Regions from separate parts of the Homo sapiens genome. Here region 1 is linked to region 2. The links come from fine-mapping of genetic effects on gene expression. A gene starts in region 2. The other region holds a variant in brackets. All regions are shown on one strand. Distances are between the middles of the regions.

The links.
Region 1: its variant is fine-mapped to the expression of RPH3A in blood mononuclear cells (TOPMed, PIP above 0.99). The same link has a PIP of 0.9 or more in monocytes.

What each region holds. Positions count from the first base shown.
Region 1 is chr12:112,883,320-112,891,658 of GRCh38, reverse strand. It overlaps RPH3A (rabphilin 3A), which reads right to left. Exons shown (of 22, transcript NM_001143854.2): 16 at 8,257-8,339; 17 at 3,736-3,862; 18 at 1,579-1,635; 19 at 656-810. Among named protein-coding and RNA genes, the nearest start is that of OAS1, 19 kb to the left of the region's middle. The variant C/T (reference allele first, on the strand shown) is at 4,725.
Region 2 is chr12:112,787,030-112,795,368 of GRCh38, reverse strand. It overlaps RPH3A (rabphilin 3A), which reads right to left and starts at 3,621. Exons shown (of 22, transcript NM_001143854.2): 1 at 3,357-3,621; 2 at 3,106-3,226. RefSeq lists an enhancer at 2,988-3,529.

The DNA.
Region 1 (8,339 bases), 96 kb before region 2:
CTGGAATGCTTCCCTCCAACTTCTCTATCTAGTCCCCTCACTCAGGTCAGACTTGCATTGTAGTCTAACATCTCTCCCTTTCTCCCCTGACTCCCTGCAGACTTCCTGGAATGGGCATTTCCCCTGATAAACCCCTTGTCTGCTTAATCCTATTTTGGCATCTTCTTCTCAGAGGATCTGGACTAACACAGATAACAGAGTCCCTTTTATTCTCCATGATGAGATTGCTGGAACAGACCCCAGACTGAAGGCATGTTTTTTTTCTGAGCATTTCCAGAATGAATCTGGAAAATGCCAGATGGCCTCTTTGGTGGTGGAGGTCTGAGCGGTCCGAGGGGTGTGCGGCCAACTCCTGGGAGTACAAATGGGGCTACTATAACTAATTAGCTTAGTTGCAGAGCCATCAGCAGGCCCTCAAGAGGACAGAGCCACAGAGCTTTGCCTGTGGGCAAGTGACACACCAGTTTGACTGCCTGAGACTCCAGACCCACATTCTTGCCAGTTGTAGGCATTTGTTTCACTGTGACCTTGGGCAGGTTCCTTGCCCTCTCTGGGTCTCAGTGTACAACGATCTTGGTGAAACTGTCTGGTTCTCCTTTTCCAAGGCTCCAGGACTCCTTCAGGGCCCACCTGTAGCCCCAAGGCATTGACTTACAGCTTGACGAATGGGTCTGAGTAGCCATTAGCGTCCATGGCAGCCAGGTGCACGCAGCGTATGATGCCCACAATGAGGCCTCCCTGCTGTGTGCTGTACATGAGGGAGACCAGGATCTTGCCACGCTCCTCGATGTCACCAACACGCTCCACCTGCTGCATTGGGGGAAAAGGCAGTGTGGGCCTTGGAGGGGAGGGGGCCAGGAAATGTGAATGGCGAGCATTAGGGAAGAACCTATGAAGGGCAGGCGAAGCTTGGCCAGCTCTAGGGAGCCAGTACCAGGGACAGCAGATGGCTTAGCCTCCAAAGAGGAGCCAAAGGTGAAAGTTGAGGACCAGTCTCAGGCACATGGGGACCAATGGCTTCCCTTTGACTTAGACATAAACAGACTCTGACTGTGAGCACAGACTAAACTTGCTCCGGGTCACTGATTGGCTTTGGCTCTAACCCAGGACTGAGCCTTGACCCTGGCCCCAGACAGATTCTTGCCTCTGATCTCAGACTCCCTTAACACAACCAGTATTCTTAAAGGGCAGTCCTTGGGGTCATATGAGGGACCCAGGCAGACAGCATGAAGGCTTAGTTCAGTTTCTGCCATGCACACAGCTCAAAGAATGCATCTACTCCAAGAAAGGAGTGTGCCATTGCCCTAGTCAGTAGAATTGTCAACAAAGCTTCTGACAACAAGGCCAAAAACCTGGTGGGCATCCTGGGTATGAGAGAAAGGGGCTTCCCCCTCCTCAGAGGCTTAGGTGTGGAGAGGACATCACTTGTGGGCAAAGGGTTGTTCTCAAGGCAAATCAACAGGGGGGTGGTTGGAAGAGAATGGATGAGGAAGGGGCCAGGGAGGGAGAGAAGAGGAAGATGCTAGCCTAGCCCAGTACAGACCCTGACTGTGGCTTCAATTCCTGCTCAGTGCTCACCTCTTCCTCATAAAGGGCCATGCCTCGGGCTGACCCGGTGGTCCCAGCACGTTTCATCTTAAAAGAAGAAAACAAATAAAAGATAACATTGTCTATGGAGCTCATCTTCCTGCGCAAGAAGGACCAGAAACCCCTCATACTTCCATTACCATCCAGAGCCATGAAAGTGGGTTCTTAAGCTACTGTGGCTCTCCTGCATTCTCCCTTTTAGCTAAAATTTATAAAACTTAGCCATATGGCAAGCTATGTGAATGTGTAACAACCTATGATATAGGTTCTGTTACAATTCCAATTTTACAAATGAGGATGCTGAGGGTCCGAGTAGTTAAGCCCCTTACCCAAGGTCACACAGCCAATAAGTGTCAGAGCATTCCACACACAAACAGACAAGATTTCATTTTCTCTGGTTGAAGTGGCTCAGGGGTCTTGGGGTCTGACCCACCAGGTGCTTTTGCCTTCATGGCCCCTGGGGCCCTTTTGCTGAACTCTAGGCTCTGGGAAACAGAGTTAGAAAACCATTGGTTAAATCCAACCTCCCCACTTTGGAGAGGAGGAAACCTGAGGTCCAGAGGGGAGGGGCCCTCAGTGGGACATAATGGGGGAAGTTCGTGGTGCAAGGGTTAAGGTTTAATGGCAAAGAGCAAAAGAAGATGATCAGTAGTGTTCTGCGGCTGCTGCAGCCCTCTGGGTGTCCTGCACCTCCATGTCTCTGGGGCTGGCTGCATTCACCATAGCAAGATGGGAAGACCCAAAGGCTGATGACACAGGCAAGGGCCTGGCCATTGTCCTGGCCAACTGGACTCACGGAGTTGGAGAAGGAAGAGAAGCCTGAAGACCCAGCTGTCACCAGGCAAAAGCCCAGAAGAAGGGCCTCATTCCTAGGGATGTCTTTAAGGATTTATTCTGAGCCTGGAATTCAGTGGAAATCCTTCCTTGAAATTTTCCTTGTTTGGTCTTGTTCCTTTGCCTGAACTATAAAACTATGGCATGGCATGCAGACATTCCATCCTCAGGCTGGCCATCTGGTGGGAAGATGCTCCTGCACCCCATAGCTTCCCTGTGGAGAGCAGGCAGGCTGCCCAGAGAGACCAGGGGTGCTGGTGTTGTAGGAGAGCTGGACTCTGGCCAGTGCCCAGAGACCTTGGAGACTTGCTACCCTTTCTGGGCCCAAGTTGGCCCATACGTAAGGCAAGGCAGCCTGAATTATCTCTAAAAATATAGATTGTTGAGTCCTACCCTACCCCACTAAAACAGAATCTCCAGGGGAGACCCCCACAAATCTTAGCTTGTAAAGCTCTGGTTTTAGAATCCCCCGGTTAATTCTGAGGTGCAACCCCATTGCAGAACCTCACTTTGATCCTTGCTATTTTCTCAAAGAGCAAGAATCACATCTGACAACAACAATGACAGTTCTAATACTTCATATGTATTATCACATTCAATCCTTAAAAGATCCTATGAGGTTAGTACTACAGTATCCCATTTTACAGATGAGACATCTGAGGCCCAGAGAAATTAAATAATTTGCCTCAGGTTATACCCTAAGTGGCAGAGCCAGGATTCACACCCGAGAGTCTGGCTGCAGAGCCCATACTCTTAAACTCTAGGCTATGCTGTCTGCTGTTTATCTACATGGTGCTTTCTGACTTCATGACTGACAGGTGGGTAAGGCAGCAATATTTCCTACACTAACAACTGTTAATTTATGAGTGCTTACTATGCATTAAGTTCTATTTTGATTATGTTATTTTTTAAAACACAACCCTCCCAAGAGGCAGGTACTGTTATAACACCCACATTACAGACAAGAACACCGAGGCTCGGAGTGGTTCAGCCCCTTGGCCAAGGCCATGGAGCAGCAAGTGGCAGAGCTGGCTCTGAACCCAGGAAGCCCATGCTGCCCCTGCCATGCTGTCCATCCAGTTTGGCCAAGAAGAACTCATGTTCGAAGTGATGCTGACACAGGGTTTGTGAAAGGCAGAGAGAGAATGCAGCCTGAGGTTGTGAGCTGGAATCTTGACTCTCCTCTGCAGACCTGCTGCAGTGCCTCTGCTACCCAATACCCCGTGGATCTATTTCCCCCAATTCAGACCCAGAGGAAGGCAGCTCCCCCAATCTCCCCTCCTCCCATCAGATCCTCAGGGTAAAGTCACTCACAGGAATCACTCGCTCCAGGCAGATGTTGAAATTCTTCCTCTGGTTGGGCTTCAGTTTCTTGAGGGAGAATCTGGTCTCACCAATAAATTCATTGTGGCCAAATTTGTCCTCATCACAGACGGAGATCCTGCCACCAACACAAGGGGGTAGAGAGAGAAACAGGAACAAATATTAAGACACCACTGTGTGCCAAGAGTTGCAGCTGATACTGGTAAGGAATGTGTAATGTATGTGGAAATAATATGATTTCCTGTTTATTTATCACTGGACCAAGTACCTTTAACTTCTTCTTTATTGCAGTATAACTGACATGCAGTAAAGCACATAAATTTAGTTTATAGCTTGATGAACCCTTGCATTTGTATATACCCATGTAATTCCCACCCAGGTCAAGATATAAAACATTCCAGAGACTGAAAGATCCTCAGGATCCTTTCTAGTCACTGCCTGTCTCAAAGATAGCCACTCTTTTGCCTCTGGCCACATGAAGTCATTTGTCTGGTTTTTGACCTTCATATAAATGGAATCATATAATATAGACTCTTTTATGTTGGCTTCTCTTGCTCAAGATTATGTCTGTGAGATGCATCCATGCACAGTATAACTTATCCTTTTTATTGCTGCATAGTATTCCACTGTGTAAATGTACCATAATAATTCTGCTGTTGATACAGGTTGTTTCTAGTTTTGAGTTATTATGAATAACGCTGCTATGGAATATTTATGTTCATGTCTTTCGGATATACATGTACATATTTCTATTGAGTATTTTCCTAGGAGTAGGGTTGCTGGCCATGGACTAGGCATAAGTTTAGCTTCAGTAGAAACTTCAAAACAGTTTTCCAAGGCAGTTCCACCAATTATGTCCCTACCAGCAGTTTATAAAGGTTCTGGTCACTCTTTATTCTCTTTGACTTCAATTATGTCAGTCTCTAATTTTAGCCTTTCTGGATGGGTCATAGTATGTCACTAGTTTTAATTTACATTTC[C/T]CTGATGATTAAAACAGTTGAGCCCCTTCTCATATACTTTATGGCCATTTGAGCATCCTCTTTTGCAAAGTCAGGCTAGGAACTTTTCTCATTTAATTTTTCCTATTTCAAAACAACTGCATTTACCATTTAGAGAAGATACTGGGGCCCAGAAAGATTAAATAATTTTTCCCTAATAAGAGGTAGAACCAGGGTTTGAATCCAGGTCTCCCTGAATCCTATAGTAATATATTGCCTTTTGTTATCTACCTTACACAGCATTGAGTAACAGTGGCACAAAAAAGGCAGGTCATAAGAAATGTCCCTTAGGACAAGAGTCTCCAACCCTCAGGCCATGGACCAGTACCAGTCTGTGGCCTGTTAGGAACCTGGCTGCACAGGAGGAGGTGAGCAGCAGGTGAGCAAGCATTACCACTTCAGCTCCGCCTCCTGTCAGATCAGTGGCAGCATTAGATTCTTACAGAAGCATAAACCCTATTGTGAACTGCACATGTGAGGGATCTAGTTTGCACGCTCCTTATGAAAATCTAATGCCTGATGATCCAAGGTGGAACAGTTTCATCCTGTAACCATCCTTCTCCCTACCCCAGTTCATGGAAAAACTGTCTTCCACAAAACTGTTCCCTGGTGCCAGAAAGATTGGGAACTGCTGCCATAGGAGACCAAAAGGACCAGTCACGGCATGATAATTCATCCTGACAAACACTAAGAGAGGAAAGGGCTTATTGTCCTGCAAGGCATGGGAGGCATTCTTGGGGGACAGGAAGGGACTGTAAAAGTACCGCACTCCTTGGCCACCAACATTAGTTGAACAAATGTTCAAAGTCCTGGAGGGCCCAAACACCCTCATAGCTGAGTCCTGCACTGTCTAACACTGGAGAAAAAACTTGTCTCTACTGAGCTGGTTGGGGTGTGAACAATATCATCCTTCTTCAGGGCAACGCATCTCCAAAGACATAAGAGAATAATCACTGTTTTTGACCCTGTAGCACCACTTATAGGAATTTACCTCAAATATATCATAAGGCAAGTACAAAAATATTTAACTACAATGGGTCCAAAAAATAGTTAGAAGGAATAAATGAGATCTAATATTTGATAGCACAACAGGGTGACTATAGTCCATAATAATTTAATTGTACATTTAAAAATAGTGAAAAGAGTATAATTTGATTGTTTATAACACAGGGATAAATGCTTGAGGTGATTAAAAAAGACATTTATTTTAACCCATTTAAAAAACTCATGATGCGATTATTACACACTGTATACCTGTATCAAATTATCCTATATACCTCATGAATATTAATATATACACCTACTATGTACCCTCAAAAAATTAGAAATATATTTAACTACAAAGATGTTTGTCACAATATTGTTTATAACTATGAAAAAAGCAGAAATAACAAATACTGTACAATGGAGGAACTGCTTAAGAAAATTATGAAATAACCACAAAATGTAATAGTGTACATTAGAGAAAGTGTTGTACTTAGTCATCAGGGAAATTTGGAACCACAACGCAACACCAGTGCACACCTACCAGAATGGCCAAAATGAAAAAGTGTTGATGAGGCTGTGAAGCAACTGGAACTCCCATGCATGGCTGATAGGAGTGCACACTGGCACAGCCACTATGGAAAACTGGCAGTTTCTATTAAAGCTGGACGTACCCATATCTTATGGCTCAATCATTACACTTCTAGGTATATATGCAACAGAAATAAGTGCACCTGTGCACCTAGAAACAGCTACTAGAATGTTCCTAGCAGCACTATTTGTAATAGCCCCAAACTAGAAACCACCCAAATACATCAACAGTAAACTGGATAAATAAAACTGCATTATATTCCTGCAATAAAATACTAAATAGCAACAAGAATGATCTACAACTACACACAACTTAGATGAATACACATGTAAAATGTTAAATGAAAGAATATAGATACAAAAGAGCCACACAATAAAATTTCATTTATATAAAGTACAAAAACAGACAAAATTAACTTGTCCTGTAAGATGTTAGGATATTGAATACCCCAGGGGAGCATTCAATAAGAAGGGGCCACAGTGGGGGTCTTCTGCAGTCTAGGAATGTTCCATTCCTTAAGCCCAGTATGTTCACTATTGTGAAAATTCATCAATCTGTGCATTTATATGTGCATTTTGCTAAATGAATGTTATGCCGCAATAAAAATATTTACTTAGAATAATGTTGCAGCCAATTGGGAAAGCAGTTTGCATGTCTTGTAAAATTGTTTTGGAAAACATCACATATCCCATGATCCAGTAATAATTCTCTTTGGTTTCTGTCCTAAGGAAACACTCATATGTACACAAGGAAGAATAAAGTTGCTCATTGCAACTTTGTTTGTAATAGAAAAAAGCTGAAAACAATTTAAATGTCCACCCAAAGGGAATTGGCTAAATAAACTGGTAAACATTTACACAAAAATTTAAAACATGCCAAACAATGCTGTACATTGTTTATAGATACATAATTATGAAGTATAAGACATACTTGAGAATGATACCCAAAGAATTCAGGATGGTGTCTAGCTCTTGGGAGAGAAGGAAGAGGACAGGACAGGGTGGGAGATAGAATATACAAAAGGAGCTTCAACTTGCATCGGGGGTGCTTTATTTCTTAAAAAAGAGCTGACGCAAACACAGCAAAATAGCAAGATTTTTAACAGATCAAGTATCGGGTGGGTTCATGGATGTTTGTTTTAGTATATTCTACACTTTTCTATTCATTTGTAATATTTAAGGATAAGAACATTTAAAAAAATCTGTGATAAATCCATTCTGTGGAATATTCTGAGGCAGTTAAAAATTAGGTAGATTTAAATGTCTTTTCATGGCTGTAATACTGAGATATATTGTTAAGAAAAAAAGGCAAGTTCCATACATATATATATATATGGAAATAAGTGCACCTGTGCACCTAGAAACAGCTACTAGAATGTTCCTAGCAGCACTATTTGTAATAGCCCCAAACTAGAAACCACCCAAATACATCAACAGTAAACTGGATAAATAAAACTGGATAAATAAAAGTGGATATATATATATATCCATTACTTCTAATGGCAAAAACTGCAATTACTTTCACACCAGCCTAATAATTCAACACTGTAGAAGAATGTGAAATGGCATCAGTGTATTCTTAAGTGATACAGATGTACTAATGAGATGATCTATTGTAATAAACATTTTTATAAGCACTCAATTTTATTAGGAAAAAACTTTTACATACACACCCACACACGCACCATCCCCCAACACACACCCCCTGAACGAACAGATACCAAGATGTTAACAGTAAACAGTTTCAACTTATCTGTATTTTCCAAAAGTTCTACCAAATATATATATCATTTTTTGGTAAAAGTAAACAAGAAGGAAAAAAATAAACTATGTAGAGATCTTTTTAGAGTGAAGCCCTGGGGGCCTCACCCCAAGTCTCAGTTCCACCCACCCCGAGTCTCCCCTTTGCCTCCCTCTCTGCCCTCTGCCTGCCAGGTACCTGAGGGTCTTCCTTTGCATGTCCTCATCGGTGATGCCGTGATACACGAGGGTCTCATTCCAGATGGGGTTCCGGGTATTCCG
Region 2 (8,339 bases):
TATTTTTATCCCAGATTATGGCCACAGCTCTTAACAGAAATAAACCACACTGTTTTCTTCTCATTGGCTTCACATCAATTCCTGGCTTATCTGCAATTACAATCAGCTCCCCACTGAATGAGGGTGAAGGGCAGAAGACAGGTCCATGTGTCATGGTGGTTTTTATTGGAAAGCCATAAACTCTGTAGGACCCATTCACAGAGAGGGAAAGAGTTAAAGCATAATGTCACAGCCTACAAAGAAAGCCCAAGAGCAGCCACCCCAACCAAATGCACATCTTCAGACAAAGCAGCCAGTCTGTGTACGGAGCAATAAGAAGGAGAAAGGCAGAGTAGGCTGGGGGCACTGACTTTCCAGGCTACCCCTGTGGAATCACAGAATCTCTGTCTGCTGCCTCTCTCCTGCCAACAAGAAAGGAAATGTCCACATTTGTCTCCATGGCTAAGCTTCCTGATTACCAGCACGGGCTGGAGAGACACTGCTGAACATCCTTCCTCTGTACCTCAGGCTGGACTGGGGGAGTAGGGGCTGCTGGAGCCAGGAGTGAGGGGATGATGCCTTGGTCTTCATAATGGTGGGTTTATATGTTGCTGCCATAACTTACTGTGTGGTCTTGGGCAAATTGTTTTTCCTCTCTGGGCCCCCCTGGAAAGGGTTAGACTAAATCAGAGGTCCTGAACTTGGGGGGGTGCTCACATGGGCATTATTGAGGATCCACTAACCCCCTGATGTTGTGTGTTTGTGTGTATATGCATCTTTTCAGAGCAGAGCCTCTCCAAGGAGTCCTTGCTGCTACTCCTGAGAAGAGTCTCTTTGGAGCCTTCAAGTGCTGCAAAATCTACATCTCTGTGCATCTGAGGCCATAAATAAAGCAGACCCCTTTCCAGCTGAGCTCAGGATTCTAGAAACCTAGCAAAGTTCTCACAAGAGACTCCCCTATCCCCAATCACCCCAAACAGGGCCTCTCCCCGACACAGGATAAATTCTCAAGCACAGTGCTAACCCTTCCTAGAAATGTGGGCATGTGCAGTCACTCACACTCACACACATACCTATCTCATAGTCAGAGAACCCCAGAACTTGAAGGGGACTTAGGGCCACCCAGACAGACTGCCCCATTGCATAGATGGGGAAGCTGAGGCCCAGAAAGGGGAGACAGCTGGGACTGGAACCCAGGTCTCCTGACCCAAGTCCAAGGCTCTTTCCAGAAGCTTCTCTTTCCCTTTCCCTGGTGCACCACAATGCACCACTTCAAATGTGATGGGGGAGGAGGGAGGGCGGCCTCTTGGATCTTGGCCATCCCTAAGGAAGTGACCCAGTGGAGAGATATTTGGGAAGTGTCCACATCTGGACACCCAAGTATTAGCTATCCCAGCTGGGCTGGCCTGTACTGCATGGCTAAACCAGTTGTTAAAAATATTAAAATAAAATATAAATATTAAAATTAAATGGGGATGCTGCCCTGAGGCCTCGTGGCTCTCTTGATAGCCCCCTAAGATCCCCCCAAACCTCTCCATAATCCAGCAATTAAAAGATTAACACTCAGTACAGCAGGGGCCCCCTAAGATGCCCTATTCCAGGACCCTAGCCATTCTGATCGATTAGTACCAAATTTCAATACTTTAAATATCACCCATAGCCAGATATGTGGTTCTTTTTTTGAACAAAATTTCCACACATTCATTATTCACACTCAAGTCTTCCCAGTGAGGAATCTAAGGCAACTTCCTCCTCAAGGTCACCCAGCAAGAGAAGCTAGGAAGAGAAGTTAGGGATTTTGAGAACCAAATCTTTGACACTAACCACCAGACAACCCTCCTCTTCTGCCTCATATGTCCTGCCTGAGCAGGCACATGCTGTGGGATTTCAGCATCTCTTCTTAGCTATGGGGCTAGAGAAAAAAAGAATGAGTGAACCCTGCTTATATTTCAGGCTTGCCAATCTCTGACTGTTGTTTTATTCCTCCCACCTCCAAGAGCAAGAATCTAAAAAGGAAATCCTTGGGGGTGCAGAACACTGAGGTGGCCCCTGAGATAATAGCAAAAATGCTAAAAACAAGGGCATTCATTTCCAGAAAAGTAGATGTAATCAAAGCAGAAAGCAAAGTGAAATCCCCTTTTGATGGGTAGCAGATTAGCATCAAAAGCATTTCAAAATTAAATGTGAGCTTTTGGATTCAATTTCAAGGTACTTCCACTTCCCACTCACTAACAGGTTGGTGCAGCCTTTCCCCATCAGGATCTTGGAAAAAGAAACTAGTGCAGGGGGACGGTCTACCCTGGAACAAAACTGAAGCTGAAGCCTGGAATCTTTCCCCAGAATTTGAACAAGCTTTGTTCCCCTCCTTCCTTCTGAGATGAACTCAAGGATAGAATCTCCCAAGCTAGTGCCAGGACGCTCCCCCATACAATCACTTACAGGTTACGCCACCTGTGAAAATAAAACATCATCTCCTCTGCAGGCAGTGGCTGCTCCCTTCTGGCCAGCCTGACCACTCATCCCAGGCATAGTGTGGCCCTTTCCTGGCTCCCAGGTCTTCCATCTCAGGAAAGCGTGAACAGCCAACCTCGCAAAAATCACCACAATTAAATTACTCAGCTGTTCCTAGAAGAGGGTACAATCTAAGCTCTGTCCTGTGCAAATCTTACCCAGTGTGCCCAGGCAAAAGTTACCCTTCCAGTCTCAGGTGACCCCCTCCCCTCCAGGGATAAGCACTCACTTGCTAAGTCAGAGTACCCAGAGTCCCTCCATGCTAGACTAGCCAGCCCCACGAAGGGTTAACTCTCTCAGAGAACTGCCGGCTACTTTCACCAGCTTCTGCTGCAAAGGAGAGGGCAAATTGGGCAGAAGCCACAATCTTGATCGCATTGCCTACAACATGAGCACATTTTACCCCCTCCCTGGGCACTAAGCCAAAATCTCATTTGGCTTTGGGATGCCGCTTAGGTGATAAAACACTGCAGGATGTAGGCAAATAAGCATAGTCGTTCCTCGATACCCTTCTCCTCCCAACTACCCTTTACCCCACCAGCTCATGAACACACATCACAATTGGGATTCCAACACCCCTAGCCCATCTGCACAACCCGGGAGAATATCACTTACCGCGACGCTGGAGGCTTGCAGGGGGAATGGGTGAGCCAAATTCTTGCCAACTCCTCCCTTCCCTGCCGGGTAGAAAGACGCTAAGTCCCAATGACTTGGTTTAAAAGCTCAGCGGAGGTGCCTGAAAGAAAATTGTTCATTTGACTCTCCTACTCTTCCCAAAATAAAATCAAAGCACCAGTGCACACACGTAGACACACAGACACATCAACTACCCCTAAATCATGCAGGACCAAGACAAAAAGAAATACCACTGCCAGAAGCGGAGAAAACTCGGACCAGCCAGTGAGTCAGTGGACAAGGGACAGTGGCTCCCTCAGACTGTCCTCCACATGGATGAAGGTTTTAGCTCTGTGAGTCTCTCTCTCTCTCTCTCTCTCTCTCTCTCTCTCTCTCCCTTCTCCCTTCCTTTCCAGTCCGCGTAGGCAACTCCGGGCTGCTGGCAGTAGACGAATCAATTGCTTCCCCAGAGCCAGTTTCTGCCGCGGCTGCCACCACTACTGCAAAGCCCTGTGTGAGCAAGGGAAGCGGGGCGGCAGCTTCCCAGTGCAGGGGGAACCAAGCGGGAACCAAGCCTGCCTCCCACCCGTGATTTATGTGTGCGGTGCCTGGAGAAAGAAAGGTGGGAGGCCGGGAGGGGAGGTTGGGCGCACCAGAGATCCCAGCTGGTCGAAACGGCAACCAGGGGATTGGCGGTCAGCACCACGGACAGCGCTAAGATGCCTTGGAGGAGGGGATGGGTGGGAAGCGAACCCCTAGGCAGAGAAGTTAAGTAATTGGATGGTTAAAGCAGAGAAGGGGGGAGTCCGGAGGGGTGGGGGACGGGACTTCTCGACATCACACAGTCTAGTCAGTGACAGCTTACCTACCACACACTTTTTCTAATACTGTCGCTCACTCTCAGAGCAAAGGAACTATAACTTCACAGCCCCTGTCTCCCACACGCCCCCAGTCCTGCATTGCTCCTCTCTGCTCAGACAAGAGCTTGGCACCGGTGTGGGGGGCTCCCTAAGTGGTTTTGCCCCTCAAAGTTTCGCCCAGATGACCTGTCCTCACCCCCATTGCTGCAGATTTTTGACCTGTACCTGGAGTTTCTCAGAATTCAGAGCAGAAAAGCTGAGGCTTAAGAAATGGAAATTTCTAAGGGGCAGGGTGGCTTAGTTGAATAAGCACTTGATGGTTTTCTGGAAGTCAGATCCAGCCCCCTTACAACTCTGGAAAAGTCATTTAATGTTTCCAAGTCCCATCTGTGAAAATGATAACATAATGACCTTATTTTTCCTAAAGATAGGAAGCAAGAGGTTAAAATGCAACAATAAGAATACCCAAGCTGTGAACTGCCATGATTTCATGGTCCATAACCTGTCCTAAAACACAAATGTTTGGACAGAGTGATAAAGGAATTGACAGCCCAGCTAGGATGGCATGTGCCAACCTCACCCTTCAGCAGGTGGTTTGAGTAGAATGAAGGGAAATTTTAGGTCTAAATCAGACCATTGAGCCTTGGCCAAAGAGCCTTCCCCGAAAGATCCAGACTGGCTTTCTGAAGTGAATTCACTATATGGACAATGAAATAAAAGTATCAAAAGGGGAAATATATAAAGATGAATGGATTCCCATGGCTCCCAGTGCTCCATATCTCAAGAGTCCTATTCCTCCTAACTTTGGGAAAGGGCTCAAATTGGAAAAAGGCCAGGAAATCTCAAACAGACCAAGATCTGCTTAGAACTTCTCTGCAAAGTGAAGGAGAACTCTCTCTATTGGAGACTCATATCTAAAGCTTCCCATCCAGATGGCCCAGGGTTAACTACTACATTTGTCACTTACTTCTCCCCATGAGACCCAGGAGTTAAAATGAGAACATTTAGAGCTCATTTAAAAAACAATTTTTTAAAGACAGTGTCTCTGCCAGGCGCGGTGGCTCATGCCTGTAATCCCAGCACTTTGGGAGGCCGAGGCAGGTGGATTACCTAAGGTCAGGAGTTCGAGATCAGCCTGGCCAACATGGTGAAACCCCATCTCTACTAAAAATACAAAAAAATAGCTGGGCATGGTGGTGTGCACCTGTAATCCCAGCTACTCGGGAGGTGGAGGCAGGAGAATCACATGAACCTGGAAGGCAGAGGCTGCAGTGAGCCGAGGTTGCACCATTACACTCCAACCTGGGCAACGAGAGTGAAACTCCATCTCAAAAAAAAAAAGAAAAAGACAGTGTCTCACTCTGTCACCCAAGCTGGAGCGCAGTGGTGCAATCATAGCTCACTGAAACCTTGAACTCCTGGGCTTAAGTGATCCTCCCACCCCAGCCTGTCCAGTAGCTAGGACTCAAGGTGCACACGAATATACCCTGCTAATTTTTTTTTTTTTTTTTTTTTTGCAGAGATGGGTCTCACTATATTGCCCCAGCTGGTCTTGAACTCCTCGCCTCAAATGAACCACCTGCCTCAGTGGTGGTGGTGGTGGTGGTGGTAGTAATTGTCATCATGATGGTAATCATAGTGATGATTATAGTGATGGTGTTGATTGACAATGATTATGCTGATGATGTTGATGGTGATGATTATGGTGGTGGTGGTGGTGGTGGCAATGATGGCTGCTATTGAAAACCTACTATGTGCCAGCTCTTCTGCTAGGAACTTTACATGTATCATCTTCTGAAGTCCTCACCATGACCCTTTCAGGACACTAGTATTATTCCCATCTTGCAAATGAGAAAACTTAGACTCAAGAAATAAAATTCCTTGCTCAAGGCTTCACAGTAAGTTACAGACACAGCATTCAAACTCAGTGTCGTATGATTCCAAAGAACATGCTCCAGGATGTCTCTCAGAGTTCATTTCAAATGCATTCTACAAGTTTGAGGGGAAAATTTTCATCGAATATTTTCTGGGATGATCCTGTGACATAAATTCAGTGTCCTCAATTTACAGATGGAGAAACTCGGGACCAGAGACGAGAATTGACTTGTCCATAATCAAAGAGCTAGGAAGTAGCAGAGTTGAGTATAGAATGCAAGCCTTTCAGATGCCAGGACCTGTGGTCTATTGCCTAGGGCAGTCCCAGGCACATAGGAAACCCTCAATAAACAATATCGTTTGTTTTATTTGAGACAGAGTCTTGCTCTGTCACACAGGCTGGAGTGCAGTGGTGAGATCTCGCCTAACCGCAACCTCCACCTCCTGGATTCAAGACGTTCTCATGCCTCAACCATGCAAATAGCTGGGACTACAGGTATGCGCCCCACGCCTGGCTAATTTTTGTATTTTTAGTAGAGACGGGGTTTCGCCATGTTGGTCAGGCTGGTCTCGAACTCCTGACCTCAAGCGACCTGCCCACGTCGACCTCCCAAAGTGCTGGGATTACAGGTGTGAGCCACCACACCTGGCTGCCTCAATAAACATTTGAAGAGTGATTCAAGAAGCCCAGGGAGAAATGAAAGTCATTTAGGATGCTGGTGGTGGAATCAGAACCCAAGTAGTTCCCAGGCCTCTTGGCTTCCAATCCCAAAGAATTTCTCACAGCTTCCCCAGCCATTAGGCATGTATTCTGGGAGGGCCTCTCATGAATTCAGCTCTCCCTTAGGGAATGACAATAGCTACCACCTGCTGCATACCTAGACACTTGCCATGTGTCACGCATTGTACTAAGCACTTTACAGTGATTATCCCCACACTTCACAGCTACCTGAAGTGGGTGCTATTACTGCCCCATTTGCAGACAAGAAGCAGACAGATGATGTGAAGCCCCCAAACTCACACAACCAGGGAGCAGCAGAGGCAGGGATGCAAATCTCAGGTCTGTCTGACTCCAAAGCCTGTGTTTTCATGACCCTGTCAGTTTTTCCTAAACCAGGCCCCCTAGAGGCCCCTGTGGAAATGAAAAGAGGCCTCAACTGACCCTCCACTCTGGTTTCAACTAGAACAGTTAGTGGTGCTTTTAACTGTTTTGCATACTGGGCATCTGCCCAAGCCTTCATTGAAACAAGGATTTTGCACCAAAATTAAAAAATAATAATATGGTTGAAACCTGAGCTCTCCACCCTCTCTGGTCACCATGCCATCTAGGAACTAGCCTTGTCTTGTCAGGGGACCTTGCCCCATCCTGCCCACCTCCCTGGTCACCACTGCCAAACCCCTCTTCTGTCCCGGGTGCTTCTGGAGAACCCTTTGTTCAAAGAACCAGCTGCTGCTGTAAACTCCACCAGCCTGTGGCACTGCAGCAGGGAGACACCTCAAAACCCAGACTTCTCAAGGCTGAGCCCGGCCAGGGTCTGACTCTCTCGAGGCTTCATTCAATGATAGAACATTGCGAAGATTCCTCAGGCCGCAATTCAGCAAGCTGCCTTGCTCTACCCTTGTTTTATGGAGCAGAGGCAGCCCAGTAAGACTTTCCATCACCCCAAAGAGGATGGGAAATGATGAAGGTAGTAATAGCTACAGCAACAAATGCTACCCACTACCTCCTGCACAATTTGTATATGTGCAGCGGCATCATCTCATCCTCCCAACAATCCCATTTCAGGATGATAATGGTTTCATTTCTGTTCTATGAAACTGAGACTCCTAAAGCAACTAGCCTGAGGCCATTGAGTTCATAAGTGGTGAGACTGGAATTTGAACCAAGACCCTGTGAATTTATGATCATTATGCTATCTGGCATTCCTAATTCCTAATCATCTCTCCTTTTGCAGGGGGCAGGTGCTTACTATTTACCAGGTGCCATGCTTTATCTCCCCAGCACTATTCATGACTGACAACAGTGAAAGGAGGTTGTGTTGTGCTATTTACCCATTTTCAAGATGAGGAAATCAGACATGGAGAGCTCAAGTGACTTGCCCAAGATAACACAGCCAGGAAGAGGGGGAGAATGGGGTGTGAATCTGAACAGTTTATCTCAAGGTCCTCTGTGCTTTTCTGTCTCCCAAGGAAATGGGCACTGAGATAGCCCATTTCACTTAGCAAGTGTGGTAGGCAAAATAATGGCCCCAAAAGATGTCCACATTTTCATCCCCAAAAGGGGTTAATAGATTACCTTAAGTGGCAAGTGGGACTTTGCAAGTGTGATGAAGTTGAGGATCTTGAGGTGGGGAGATTATCCTGGGCTATTTGGGTGAATCCAATGTAATCACAAGGGTCCTTATAGGAGGGAGGCTGGAGGGCCAGAGTCAGAGAGGAAAGGTGTGGATGGAAGTATAGGGGGAGAGAGAGAAAGAGAGGTAGGGAGAGGTATGAAGA